Homo sapiens: one gene and its partner. The protein of the gene in region 2 interacts with the protein of the main gene of each other region in a pairwise test. Each region holds a gene or a part of one and is shown on either strand. Other genes may lie near its edges.

What was found. Proteins that work in one complex are often made in the same cells at the same time.
Region 1: the proteins of ADRA1A (region 2) and BMP1 interact in a two-hybrid assay, tested with the Homo sapiens proteins (one study listed by IntAct).

The regions. Positions count from the first base shown.
Region 1 is NC_000008.11:22,175,365-22,182,388, reverse strand, and holds part of BMP1 (bone morphogenetic protein 1 isoform 3 precursor), read right to left. Parts: intron 6,247-7,024; coding exon 6,076-6,246; intron 5,857-6,075; coding exon 5,739-5,856; intron 5,466-5,738; exon of another isoform or gene 5,429-5,465; coding exon 5,250-5,428; intron 4,538-5,249; coding exon 4,432-4,537; intron 2,685-4,431; coding exon 2,560-2,684; intron 2,022-2,559; coding exon 1,906-2,021; intron 1-1,905. UniProt on the Homo sapiens protein: Metalloprotease that plays key roles in regulating the formation of the extracellular matrix (ECM) via processing of various precursor proteins into mature functional enzymes or structural proteins.
Region 2 is NC_000008.11:26,864,260-26,871,881, reverse strand, and holds the start of ADRA1A (alpha-1A adrenergic receptor), read left to right. Parts: upstream 1-4,603; 5' UTR 4,604-4,946; intron 4,947-6,226; 5' UTR 6,227-6,912; coding exon 6,913-7,622. UniProt on the Homo sapiens protein: This alpha-adrenergic receptor mediates its action by association with G proteins that activate a phosphatidylinositol-calcium second messenger system. Its effect is mediated by G(q) and G(11) proteins.

The DNA.
Region 1 (7,024 bases), 4.7 Mb from region 2:
AAAGCCTAGATTAAAAGATTAATGCCAATTTGGAGGGAAATCTTGGTTCTTCTTTGGTTTGTGTGCTGTTCTATGTTTTGATCAAAGGCCAGGACGAAGACCTAGAAGTCATGCTTATCAAAGGAGCTCATGGCAGAGGTAAGAGGAGGGCTACCTGATGGATGGTGAAATTCTGATTCAAAATGATCTTGAGATGTCGAAATGAACAATGCAATCAATAATAGAATTGAATCCAGCTCAACGCTGCACTATGACATTAAGAACCATGCCCCAATCAAGGAAAATAAAGTCTTGTAGCTTGGGAGCAATAAAAATATGGACACAGAAGGTCTGGGGTTGGTGCGGAGGTCCAGAGTCTGTGTGAAAAGACCGGGAATGGATCTAAGAAGTGATGGGAGTAGCCTCCCCACATTAGGAGGGCTGACATGGGAAAGAGGGAGTGAGTTATCCTGCATTGCTCTTGAGGAAAGTACTGGAGCAACTGGGGGGCTTAAGGGAGAAGAAGAGACGTTGTAACATTAAGAGCTGGCTACAGGCCAGATGCGGTGGCTCACGCCTGTAATCCCAGCACTTTGGAAGCCTGAGCCAGGAGGATCACTTGAACTCAGGAGTTCGAGACCAGCCTGTGCAACATGGCGAAACCCTGTCTCGACCAAAAATAGAAAAAAAATTGCCGGGCATGGTAGCGCACATCTGCAGTCCCAGCTACTCCAGAGGCTGAGGTGGGAGTATCGCTTGACCCTGGGCGGCAGAGGTTGCAGTGAGCTGAGATCGCGCCACTGCACTCCACCTTGGGTGAAAAAGTGAGATTCTGTCTCAAGAAAAAAAAAAAAAAAGAGCTGGCTAGAGAACAGAATGAATTATTCTGAAAAGTAGTGAGCCTCTCATCACCTTAGGTATTCAAACAGGGCTAATCAACCATGCAGTGGGAAACCTGACCGGACAGGCTCGGGGGCCCTCCCCACACTCGGTGTCCACCCTACTTGCCACCAATTAGTAACGAGCAGGGAAGGCTTCCTGAAGGAGGTCACATCCGAGCTAGACTGTGAAGATGGAGACAGCTCTGACCCGATCCCGTAGTATGCCCGAAGCCAGCCCCACGTGGCAGCAAGTATGAGAACTGGGTACTTCCCCACAAGGTAAGACAGAAGGTGGAGCTGAGCTTTCTCTATGGATCAGAACTGATATAGCAGGTGACAGGTAGAGGGAGGAGAAATAGAGTGCCAGTGGAGAGCCAGGCACAGAAAATCAGGCCCACAGAGCAAAGACTGGAGGGTCCTGGCCTGAGCAAGGGGAAGGATGGGTGAGAAGGAGAGACCCACCAGGCAGCATCCTGCTGGAGGCGCCTGCATCATTCCTTAATTGTTCCCAGGACTAGAGCCTGTCAGAATCGGGAAGAGCCCTTCAGGAGCCCCTGGCCCAAGCCCTGATGAGACGGATGAGAGCTGAGCGTCAGGCTGAGCAGTTCATCCAAGGGAACCCAGACCTGAGAAGAGCTCCAGTCCCACCTCAGTCCTTGTTAGCTGTGTGACCTTGGGCAAGTTACTTAACCACCCTGTGCCTCAGTTTCCTCATCTGTAAAATAAAGGTGGAGGTAGCCGTAAAAACTAAAAGAGGTGATGTAGGAAAATCACCCAAGAAGAACTAGATAATCAAAATAGACCTACACAGCAAGTGCTATGTGCAAATTAACACTAATTTATAATTATTGGGAGATGCCAGGGAAGGCGGTGAATGCCAGGAGCCCCTTCCTACAGCCGTGCTCCATCAGCGCTCTGGACTTGATACATTTACGGTAGCCAGGTAGGTCGCTGGCACCCATATTGACCCCCACTGTGGGAGAAGTCCCTGAGGTATGGGGACCCGCAGGGGAGGGGGAGGCTCAGAGGCTGAGCCCACACGTACCTTCTCCCCGGGTGTGACAGAGATGCGCCACACGCAGTGCATGTGAGCAGAGTAGCCATTGGGGTATTCAGGGGAGGAGAAGTTGCCTGTGCTGTCTTGCAGGGTCTCTCCACAGGCTGTGAGGAAAGGAAATGACAGGGCAGGGCTGCAGGCGCCAAATCCCCCCATCTTCTGGCTCACCCACCCCTGAACCTTGGCATCCTCTGGGGGAGGGGAGAATGCCTGAGGAGTGGGAGGGTGTCTGCAATGGTCCTGCCCCTATAAGATCCACCCCCCTACCTCACATATAGCACACGCCATCCTACCTCCCAGCCCAGTGCTGCCCTGTTTGTGAAGGCAATATGGGTTCCAGAGCTAAGGTCAAGCTCCCTTGGTGGGGCTCCGTGCCACCTCCCTCTCCTAGGATTGCTGTTCTCCCCACTTCCGCCCCTACAGACCCTCAGAAGGTGGCGGCTCGGCTTCTGACCACCCACCTGAGCCTACCCCCAGCGGCCTCCTTCACTTGGACACTGCCCCTCCTATGGGGTCCCCTCCCCCGCCACACCATTCTCTAAGACTTGCAGCCTAAGCCTTCTTGGTGGCACCAGGCACCTGGCCTCTGCCTCCCTCAGGCCCTGCCCTCCACGCCCTCACCCATCCCTTCTCTGCCCTGACCTGGGCACTTGTAAAGCTTGCGGGCTTGGGCAATGTCCCCCTTGCTGAGCCGTGTCCTTTGGCCAATGGGAGGTTTCACCCCGTTCACCTCATACTTGGGGACAATGGTATCCAGGAAGATGCCCCTGAAGAAGAGGGAGAAAAGTAAGGGTGAGCGTCTCATGGACAGTGGGCAGGGAGTGGGTGGCATGCCCATCTGTACCCACAAGTCACGACCCTGCTGGAGCTCAGACATTCCTCAGCAGGGTCAGGGCCGGGTGGAGTCGTCTCACCCTGTCATTATGCTACCCACTGACCAGCAGCCACCCTGCTCCGTGGCAGCCACACCACAGGAGTCGGGGGAGCCCCAGGAACACTTTGGGAGGTCAGGGATGCAGGTCCAGGGTGCCCTTGGACCCACTGGTGCTCCCAGCTCAGGCTGGCCACAACTCCCAGCCCCAGGAAAGCTACAGGCCCCTAGCGGGTCATCTCTCTCCAGCCCCACTGGGCCCCTGCTTCTGCAGCCCCTCATGCTGCTCCAGCCCTAACTAAACTTCTCCCAGGACTCCCCAGGCCAGCTCCTCACCCTGCTGGCACAGGCTGCATCTGAAAGCACCTGGAACAAGGCCAAAGGCAGATTCCACTGCAGCCAGACCAAGCCCCGGGGACAGCCCCACCAGCTCCCAATCTATCAGTGTCTCCTGTCCTGGCCATTCCTCCCTGCTGAATCCTGGGTGTTTGCACTGGGAGGAGCAGAGTGAAGGGGAGGCAGGCAGCCCTCCACCTCCCCAGGGCCCCTGACTCACACCCAGCTGGGTGGATCGCAGCAGGGGGTGGGGTGGGATGTGGTGGGAAATGTAAGGCCGGGTCTGTGGGTGTGGGGGGCAGAATGACCTCACCACCCTTCCTTGGTCTCTGTTCCTGCAGGTCTGCAGGCAGGAAGAGCAGATCGGGTAGAAGCACTGAGAAGAGGGGGCAGGGCCACTGTCTGGGACACAGACAGAGGATGAGCAAAGCACCAGGCCTGGGAATGGCCAGGCCAGGAAGGAGTTTGAGGAGGAGGGAGGTGCCATTTCCCACACTGCTAAGGAGAATCTTGGGGGAGGGGAGGCTGGGCCACCACCTTTGAGGGCTCTGGTTGTGGCTTCTGGGGACCTGGGCCTCAGATAAGGAGGATGTGCTTCGGAGCTGGGCATGGGGGCTAGTCCAGGGCAGGGGTCAGGCTTCGTGCAAACTGGCCAATTACAAAAAAAGCAGACTAATTAAAAAGGAATGGCTGGGCATTGGTGGCTCGCGCCTGTAATCTCAGCGTTTTGGGAGGCCGAGGTGGGAGGATCCCTTCAGCCCAGGAGTTCGAGACCAGCCTGGGCAATATAGTGAGACCCCATCTCTAAAAAAAAAGGCACGGTGGCGTGTGCCTGTCATCCTAGCTACTCAGTAGGCTGAGACGGGACGATTCCTTGAGCCTAGGAGTTTGAGGCTGCAGTGAGCCATGACTGTGCCACTGCACTCCAGCCTAGGTGACAGAGCAAGATCCTGTCTCAAACAAAAACAAAAACAAACAAATGGCCCACAAATAAAAGCTCAGCACCCTTTGGGCTGATAGTTTGGGGCTACCCCACACTGCTGGGCTTGCAGAGTGGCTGGGTTCAGCCTCCTCCGCCAGGTGCCCTGGGTGCACACGGTGGTAAGGCCCTGCCACAGACCCACCCGTGGAAGAGGACAGGAGGGCAGGCAACATCCACGGACCCTCTGCTTGGAGGCCACAGCCCCCCAGAGGGCCACTCTTTTCCTGGGTCACTGCCCCAGAAGTGGGAGGCAGGAGGAGAATAGCCTACAGAGGGCAGGGTGGGGCTGCCCGAGCAGAGGCCCAGCCCCAATCCCGTCTCCCACCTGGAGAATGTGTTCCGAGCGTAATGCATGATGCTGTCGAAGTCATAGGTCTCCCCCAGGGACTCCACCTCCTGAGGCTCCATCTTCAGGAAGTTATACTCCTGCCCTGCCAAGATCAGGAAAAGGGTGTGGGGGGAGAGGAGGGGGTGGGTCTGCCTGGGATGCAACGCTCACTTTCCAGGGCAGGGAATGGAGTCCTTCCTGTATCTGAGAGAGTCCCCCTACCTGAGGGTCCGGGGAGCAGCCAAGGGGAGCCTGGGGAATGGGGAGGGTCTCAGGAAGAGTCCTGTCCAGCAGAGGGCCTGGTGAATGGAGGACTCAAGGGAACATGGGAAGGAAGCACCATTTCTAGAGCCACAGCTGAGAAGGAGCAGTGAAGAGTGGAGAACGCCTGGGAGAGAGGGAGGAGGCGGGAAGGGAGGGACAGAGACATCGAGAAAATGAGAGAAAAGCCCTCGGAGGGCAGACCAGGCAGAGGGCAGATAGTGGGCAAAGGTGGGGAGAAAGGCCTGAGCAGTCCCCAGGACGGCCCACTATGCCCATGCCCCACCCTAGAGGCTGCCCGGGCTACCGCTGTCCAGGACCAGGACCTGGCCCAGCCTCCCAGAGGAGCTCCACAATGGATGCGGGTCCTTGATCTGACACGGAGGAGGAAATGCCTCAAGGGCAGGGGCTGGCTCAACCCAGGCTGTGGGCAGCGCTGCGGGCCCAGGCGATGACGGCTGGCTGGAGCGGCTGCCACTGCCCCCAGGGGTCCTGGAGGTGGGGGCTGGGGCGGGAGCCGCCCACCAAGGCCGCACCGAGGGGCAGGTACCTACCTGGCTGGATGTTCTCACGAACGATGGAAACGTGGCGGTCCCGGTCTGGCCGAGTGTGTTCGTGCCAGAAGCCGACGACGTGGCCCAGCTCGTGGACCACAATGCCGAACTTGTCACAGTTCTTGCCGATGGAGATGGCCTGGGGGCCCCCGCCGCGGCGACCCACGTAGGAGCAGCACCTGGAGGGCGGGGCCAGCTCAGGGGGGCGGTCCCGAGCTGGGGGAGTGCATCCACTCAGGGGCGGGGCCAGGCTGCCGGGGGCGGGGCGGCAGGGGAGCGAAGGGGAGGGGTGGGCCCTGAGCACCGAGTGCCCAGGCTGTGTGCTGGAGGTCACAGCCGCACAGGGGGCAGTTCCTGGGTAGATGCCCCATAGCAGGAGGGGATAAAGGGACCCAAGGCTGTGCCCAGCTGGGGGCAGTGGCAGGGCCCAGGGCAGAACCTGGGTTGGGGCAATGGCGGAAGGTACAGCGCCTAGGGCTTCCTGCTCACCCGCAAGGTCGATAGGTGAACACAATATAGCTGTCCTCGTCAGTGCGCTCCAGGAAGGTGACACAGGTGTGCTTCTCCCAGTGCCTCATGGCCTGCCGGAAGACTGCCCTCTGGCTACCTGCCAGGAGGAAGGAAGCCAGGTTGCCACGGTGTCCAGGCAGTCCCACCCCCTACCCACCACTGAAGAGTCACAGCCATTCTGAGGGCAGACTGCCTGGAAAGGAATGTGTGGGCACTCGGGCTGCAGGTGGCACCCACGCCTCCGTGCCTGGCAGGGCTGCCACAAGGCCAGGCCCGGAAGCTGGTTACACTCTGGGACCCACAATAGCACGCTCACCAGTGAAGTTTCCCCCAATGACAAAGGGGATGACCCCATCGGGCCACACACGCTCTGGTCGGGACGTCGCCGCCCGCCGGCTACGGGATCTACCTCTCCATCTCCCACAGGCTCCCCTCTGAGGCTGCCCGTTGGTGCTCTGGCAGCTGGGGGTAGAAGTGTTTCCTGGAACTGAGAGAGGAAGTCATGGTGACTAGTGAGTGGAGAGAAAGAGGAGGAAAGCAAAAGCATAGTCAAACCTCATTTTTCATGGATTCTGTGCTTGCAAATTTGTCTACTGGCTAAAATTTATTCGTAGTCCCCAAAATCAATACTCTCAGGGCTTTCACGGTCATTTGTGGACATTTGCAGAGCAGTGAAAAATTTCAGTCACCCAACATGCATGTTCCCAGCTGAGGTGGAATAAGGCAACGCTCCGCTTTCTGCTTTCGGCTCTCATTGTGTAACCAAGTGTCCTTTTTGAGGTCTAGTTAAAGTGCCCTGTTTTTTGTGTTTTTGTGCGCTTTGTTGAGGGTTTCGCTGTTTAAAACAGCCCCTGAGCATAATGCTGAAGTGCTCTCTGGTGTTCCCAAGGGCAAGAAGGCTGTGATATGCCTCACAGAGAACATACGTGTGCTAGGTAAGCTTCTTCGAGGCATGAGTTAGAGTGCTGTTGGTCATGAGTTCAATGTTAATGAATCAGCTCCATATTAAGTAAGGTGTCTTTAAAAAGAAACACTCATAAAACAAGGTGATGCACTGATCAGTTGACAAAAATGTTGTGACCAGAGGCTTGAAGGAACCTGACCCTGTATTTTCCCTAGGAGCAATGGGTCAGTATTTGCTAATGTTTTCAGTGACTGTACAGAGTAACTATAAAGTTATTCTATAACTTCCATAAATAGCAAGAATTGACAATAATCGTAAAAGAGAACAAAGGTGTACTCATTTTCTAGGAATTGTGGGGATC
Region 2 (7,622 bases):
ATACATGGACACAGGGAGGGGAACAACACACACTGGGGCCTGTCAGGGGATGGGGGGCAAGGGGAGGGAAAGCATTAGGACAAATACCTAATGCATGTGGGGCTTAAAACCTAGATGATGGGGTTGATATGTGCAGCAAACCACCACGGCACATGTACACCTATGCAACAAACCTGCACATTCTGCACATGTATCCCAGAACTTAAAGTAAAATAATAAATAAATAAGAGGATTTACCACAGTTCAAGTTATAGATCAGAATTTTTTTTAAAGCCTGAATATTTAAATATTTAATTTGTCATGACATACAGTGTCTTAGTCTGTTCAGGCTGCTATAACAAAATACCTTAGACTAGATAATTTATAAACAAAAGAAATATATTGCTCGGGAAGTTGCAAAGTCCAAGATCAAGGTGCCAGAAGATTTGATGCTAGGCAAGCGCCCATTCTTCATAGATGTCGCCTTCTGTGTGTTCTCACATGGCAGAAGGGCAAAGAGGCTCCCTCTATTATAACAGCACTAAGTCCATTCCTGAGGATGGAACCCTCGTGACCTAATCATCTTACAAAGACCCCACCTCTTAATACCATCACCTCGGAATTTAGGCTACAACATATGAATTTTGGGGAGAACACAAACATTCAGACAATAGCATATACATATAATAGAATCACTGTGGAGCTCTTATAAACCATGTTTTGGTATAAATGTAATAATAGAATGAGTTCATGATATAATATAAGTGAAAAAGTAAGATATATAATTATAGGTACAGTATGATTACACTCTTTTATATAATGTATACAATGTATAATATGTGAAATATATATGTATGCATAATAAATACATGTACATAAAATATTTCCTGGTATGTACATGTGTATATATATTTTTCCATGTATATAATTTATACACATTAACAAAAAATGAGAAAATATGACAAATATTTAACAATAGCTATTTCTCCAGTGGCAGGATTACAGATAATTTTTATTTTCATACATTTCTGTCTGACTTTTCCAAATGTGCTATTATGAGCATAAATTTTATAATTAAATACAAGTCAATAAGCATTTTAAAGTGCCTATAACAGCCCATCAGCAAGTGAAGAGATGAGATAAAAATGTGTCTGCACTTGGTACACATATTGACTTTCTTTTACTTCCATTTCCAGATGATATTGACAAAGATATTGAAAAAATTTGATTAATATGCCTCAGCTTAGATTTGCTATGCGAGAGCAAAGTCTTATTGTTTTAAAGGAATTATTTGCTGATCAGCTATAGGCTGACTTGACCTCATATTCCTACCATGATAGTCCCACAGTGTAGGGATGGGGTGGTATGACTCCCAAGACTTGGAGTATGTTATTTTCTCAGGGCAATGAAGATTTGGAAAAATGATGGCAAAGACAGAATTACTATCTCATCAAAGACATCCCTCAGCAGTATCTGTGGGCTGTGCAGTGTTCTCAGTTCGATAAAGGATTAGAACACAATGCTTCTTTGGAGAGCTGTGACTTGATACTGCATCAATACCTTTCTGAGAATTGTTTTTCATTTTCTTGCCTCTTTAACTTATTAAGCCTTAGGAGAATTAGTTGAAAAGCCAAGTCTTTGGGGTAGATACTAACATTAAGTCTTCTACTCTGTCATTTGCAATCATAAATTCCAGAACACAGCTCCTAATTCCATTGTGTATTGTTTTCTAAGGGAATGATAGACAGATTCTTTATTTTTTTAAACCTCTAAGCCTACCACACTTGCCGAGTTCCTCACTAGTCACTAAGAAAGTCCTGCCAATCAATGCATGGGTTTATGTCCATTGCTCAGCTCTTCTCCAATCAGACTCATTCCCCCAGCATCCCTGACACACCACTCTAAAATGCGGCTGCTGATGGTTCACCTTCCTCACTTTTGTCTACAAATCTCAATCCTGCTGATTCCACAAATCCTACATCAAGCAATATCATTTTATGAGTCTTTCCACAACCACCCCTTCAGGGGATTCTTCAATTTCTGTCACACCGGAAGTCTTCAGAGTATCACCCTCAGAGCCAGGCAAGAGGGACCCCGGCTAGGGTTTCAGGCTTTAGAGAGTCCAGCTCTGACTCCTTTTGGCCATAGGACTAATGTGATATGCCCACCTGGAGCCTGTGCCCTCCTTTCTAGACCATGCCCTGGGACTCAGAATCCCTTGCCCCAGATGGCCACACAATCACTTTCAGGTCCATTCTCTCTGGGCAGACAACATCACAAATGTGTGTACCCCAAGGCCTGAGGCCAAGAAGGCAGCTTTCTGGCTGTAGGGGCTGAGGTGTTCACACACATTTGCATGGCCCCTCAAGACAAAGAACAAGGGGGAAAGTGAGAAGAAAAGAAGCAGCCAGTGATCAGGGCCAGCTCTTGCAACTTAACCATGTTGGGTCATTCTGATTAAACCACTTAGCTCAAGTGTAGTGCTCAAGACACTTAGCACATTCTCCAGCTGAATTTACCAGTGTTCATGGACTACCTGGGTTAGAAATATATTTCACTATAAAGTAGCATACAAAATGAGCAGAAAGGGAGTTAATAAGATTAATAATAGAGTTAGTGAATATTATGAGCTGAGTTTTTGAGAAACGTAATTTCTTTCAACACTAATAACAACCTTGTGGGGGTTCATTGTCTCCCTTTAAAAATTAGGAAACCAAGGCTTTGCCATGGTCGCATAGGAGGGTCAGAATAGCATCTTTATGACCCCAGAGCATACTCCTCTCCACTCCACCTACCCATGTGTACAACTCAGACACTTTCTGGGATGTCCACGTCAACTATTCTTTAAAGAGTAACCAACAGATGGATAGTTTTCTGTTTGTGAATCAATGGTAGGTGACTGAAAAATTGGTTCTGAGAGGTCGTTTTGCAAGGATTGATGGTCACAGGCTGAGAAGCAGATTTGAAAGACCTACCTGCTAGCAGCATGAAGAGCTGCTCTTCCTTATCTTAGTATTAACTAGTTAATTATTGGAGGTGGGTGCAGGGGTGGATTATGTGTATTCTTAATTGTTGTAGAGTGGGGACTGGGAGTTACAAAGACTTTTGCAATTTTCGACCTTGCAGAGCTGAGCAATTTTCAGTTGCTTTGCTTGCTGATAGCACTGCTTCCCTTATCTACCATGGAACACATCTTAATGAAGAATTTGCATTCACAGCATCAGGTTAATGAATACAAAACAAAACAGTGTATATCCCTCTGATGGATGGGATTTCGGAAGCACAGACATTATACACATATTTGATGATAAAGTACTAGAAGTGCAGGGAATTGAGGTCAAGCTTCCTCCTAAGGGGACTGAATCCCAGAGAGAGCAGGTGACTTAGTAATGAGAAGTGGAGCTGTCTGTTCAACCAGGATGCTCCTCCTATGGCACGAAATTCAGTTTTAAAAATATATTAAATTCAAATCAAATGTGTTAGGTGTGAGTTCTATCCCTACAGGTATGAGGCAGAGGTGGAGGACTTTGTATACAATAGAGAAATAAATACATATATTAGGTCTTCCATGACATAGGATTTACTGACCCTCTCATGGGCATTCCTCTGAGGCATTTTGAGATTTATTGCTATAAAAGAGCCTCCCAAACATTATCTCACTTAGAAAAGGTAATCATATTAATATGATTTTGTTCACAGGAGAGAATTTAAGTGCCACTGCTTAAAGTTATCTCCTTGTTCCTAGGTTTAAGGAGACCTAGTAAATAAGAACATTCCACTTTGTCTGCATCAATAAAGATGAAAGATGACTTAGGAGGTGGGAATTGGAGTGGGAAACATTTTTCTATGTTCCCGATATTCTGAAACACATGTGACTTTATTCAATCACAAGGTAAACAGATTATGTAATTTACCAGAAAAAAAGTAATAAGACTGGTGGTGCTAGGTTTTCATACTCCAGCTATTAATGAATTAAAGAGAGTAACACTCCTGAAAGGATACCATTTTCTCAAGAAAACTGGAAAAGATTGTGTGGCATTTAAAAAATACCAAACTCTGTGGCCATAATGCTCTTAAAATTCATCTGTCTAAAGAAATTAGAAGTGAATCATATTAAATAAGGTTTAGATATGTCCACTTTATCTTCCTGAAAATATAATTTCATTACAATCAGATTTGTCATATTTTATCTGATTTTACTTGCTATTTAAAACACCTTATAATTTACTTGCATATTTAGAATTACAATATTCTTAATATACTTCTTGATCTTAACAAAACCTAGGCCAAATGTTAATCAAATCAAGCTGTTCAAAGTTACTTTATAGCACATTCCTATGAACACACCATACACACAGCAATATCTAGCAAGGGTGTCAATTTTTCGTTATTTTTAAAAGCTCATTTAAAGAAGTTATTTACTACAAATGACTCTACACACACACACGCGCGCGCGCGCGCGCACACACACACACACACACACACAAACCTTTTTAAAGAAACGCTAGAACCCAACCCCCTCTAGGCCAGAGGAAAACATTACAGCTGTATACGCACTTGTGCCTGTTGCCGTAGAGTAATACGGTAGCAGCAGGAGATTACGGTACTAGCTGGGCTACTGCCTGAGTTACGTCAGCGAGAGCTGCAAAGTTCCTTGCTATTCTTTTCTGGTGTCGGGGAGCTGAATATTAAAAGGGTGATTGTGGAGTTACCGGTTATCTGCATTTTTTTTTCTTTTCTTATTTTGACTCTTTTTAAAAAATGCAGGTAAAGTGACAGCGGTTCAGGAGCTTAAAGACATCAGTGGTGGAGGGGTGAGTCAGCGGGTGCAAAAGGACAAGGATTTGGTGCCTCGGAGACACGGTCCCCTCTCCGCCTCCAGAGAAGAGCAGGCAGGCAGCTCCCGGGACCGAAGCCGGGTCCACATCCCCCGCGCGCGAGCTGGTGGCTCAGCAGCGGCGCTTCAGGTGAGTGCGCCGGGGCCGGCGTCCCGCAGGGCCGAGTGGGTGAGGGCAGACCTCCCCCGCCGTCTGGTGAGACGGAACCCCCACTTTTCCCAGCGCCTCCCGCTTTTTCCACCAGGTTTTATACCGGCCCCTCTACCCCACCCCCGATTCCCTTACATCTTCTGCGAAGTTGCCTTCTACTGAACAAGTGTCTTTTTAACCCTGTGTTTATCACCCTCGAGGTAGGAGGAAAAGGGTTTCTGCAGTGGCACGTTTTTAATACCACCTGTGAGGTCTCCAACTTGCGATTTTAACAAGAGTCTTTGCCCGAGGTCCCACCTCAGGGCCCAACCCCAGAAGGCAAGGTGGGCACTTCCTCACGCCGCGCTGTCCTGCCGAGTCCCTGCGGTAGGTTCGCAGTTGTGGAAACCCAGGTTTCTTACGCAGATGGTGGCCCCCAGCCCAGAAAATCGAAGGCGGCCCCTGCCCGCTGGCATGCCGGCTTAATGTTTACGCCTGCAAAATCCGCAGTGACTGTCACTTGCAAAGCTCCCTCTGCAGAGGGACGTCCTCCCCACCCCGTCCCCCGCCAGTCCCGCTACGGCTGGCAGCTGGAGCCCCTCGGGTGGCCAACAGTGAGGCTTGGAAAGGCGTCGTGGACAGACCTGGGTCGCTTTCTGTCTTCGGGTCCCTCCCGGCTTCGCTCGGGACCTGGCTCTCAAGCCAGCTTGGCTGGTGGACAGACCGGTGCGCTCTGCACACCCGAGTGCGAATTCCACCGGCGTGAGAGTGAGCGTGCTCGTGGTCCTGGCCCTGAGGTCCCTGGGTCGCAGCTGTTCCCTCTCCCAGGCCGCCCCCTCCAGGTGACTGCGAGGCAACCTGTTCTAACGGAAACCGAGTACATCCTCCAGAATTCCCCGGCTAGGATCCGTGCGACACACTCGCCAGCCGCAGTCGCCCCTCCGGGGCTTCGAGGATTTTAATTTCGTGGTACCTGCGCTCGAAATCCAGACTTCGAGCGCTGGAGCCTGGGGTTTTGGGGATTTGTTTTTTTGTTTGTTTTTCGCTTCGGATCCTGAACTCGGGCAGAGGTGACTCAGTAGAGTGCGCTAGGCAGGTTCCCAGTGGTGGGGGCGCGAGATGAGCTCCGAAGTCGCCTCCACCGCTGCCGGGCGAAGCAGCTTCTGGACCGCAGAACCAACCCGGCTCCCAACTGGTGTCCCCCAACCCGTCAAGCTCAGCACAGCCTCTTTCCCTGGGGCGCCTAGCTCAAAGCCGCCTTTCTCTTTGCGCTCTTTCAGGTGGACGCGGTCAAACGATGCCCCGCAGCCTCCTGGGTCTCAGCACATATTCCACACCTACGTCCCCTGACCTGTGCTCCTAGAAGCTGGAGAGAGCAGGAGCCTTCGGTGGGGCAGCTCAAAATGTAGGTAACTGCGGGCCAGGAGCAGCGCCCAACCTGTAGCGCTGCGCTACCCAACCATCGGTCCCTGCCTTTGAGCGTCGACGGCTGATCTTTTGGTTTGAGGGAGAGACTGGCGCTGGAGTTTTGAATTCCGAATCATGTGCAGAATGCTGAATCTTCCCCCAGCCAGGACGAATAAGACAGCGCGGAAAAGCAGATTCTCGTAATTCTGGAATTGCATGTTGCAAGGAGTCTCCTGGATCTTCGCACCCAGCTTCGGGTAGGGAGGGAGTCCGGGTCCCGGGCTAGGCCAGCCCGGCAGGTGGAGAGGGTCCCCGGCAGCCCCGCGCGCCCCTGGCCATGTCTTTAATGCCCTGCCCCTTCATGTGGCCTTCTGAGGGTTCCCAGGGCTGGCCAGGGTTGTTTCCCACCCGCGCGCGCGCTCTCACCCCCAGCCAAACCCACCTGGCAGGGCTCCCTCCAGCCGAGACCTTTTGATTCCCGGCTCCCGCGCTCCCGCCTCCGCGCCAGCCCGGGAGGTGGCCCTGGACAGCCGGACCTCGCCCGGCCCCGGCTGGGACCATGGTGTTTCTCTCGGGAAATGCTTCCGACAGCTCCAACTGCACCCAACCGCCGGCACCGGTGAACATTTCCAAGGCCATTCTGCTCGGGGTGATCTTGGGGGGCCTCATTCTTTTCGGGGTGCTGGGTAACATCCTAGTGATCCTCTCCGTAGCCTGTCACCGACACCTGCACTCAGTCACGCACTACTACATCGTCAACCTGGCGGTGGCCGACCTCCTGCTCACCTCCACGGTGCTGCCCTTCTCCGCCATCTTCGAGGTCCTAGGCTACTGGGCCTTCGGCAGGGTCTTCTGCAACATCTGGGCGGCAGTGGATGTGCTGTGCTGCACCGCGTCCATCATGGGCCTCTGCATCATCTCCATCGACCGCTACATCGGCGTGAGCTACCCGCTGCGCTACCCAACCATCGTCACCCAGAGGAGGGGTCTCATGGCTCTGCTCTGCGTCTGGGCACTCTCCCTGGTCATATCCATTGGACCCCTGTTCGGCTGGAGGCAGCCGGCCCCCGAGGACGAGACCATCTGCCAGATCAACGAGGAGCCGGGCTACGTGCTCTTCTCAGCGCTGGGCTCCTTCTACCTGCCTCTGGCCATCATCCTGGTCATGTACTGCCGCGTCTACGTGGTGGCCAAGAGGGAGAGCCGGGGCCTCAAGTCTGGCCTCAAGACCGACAAGTCGGACTCGGAGCAAGTGACGCTCCGCATCCA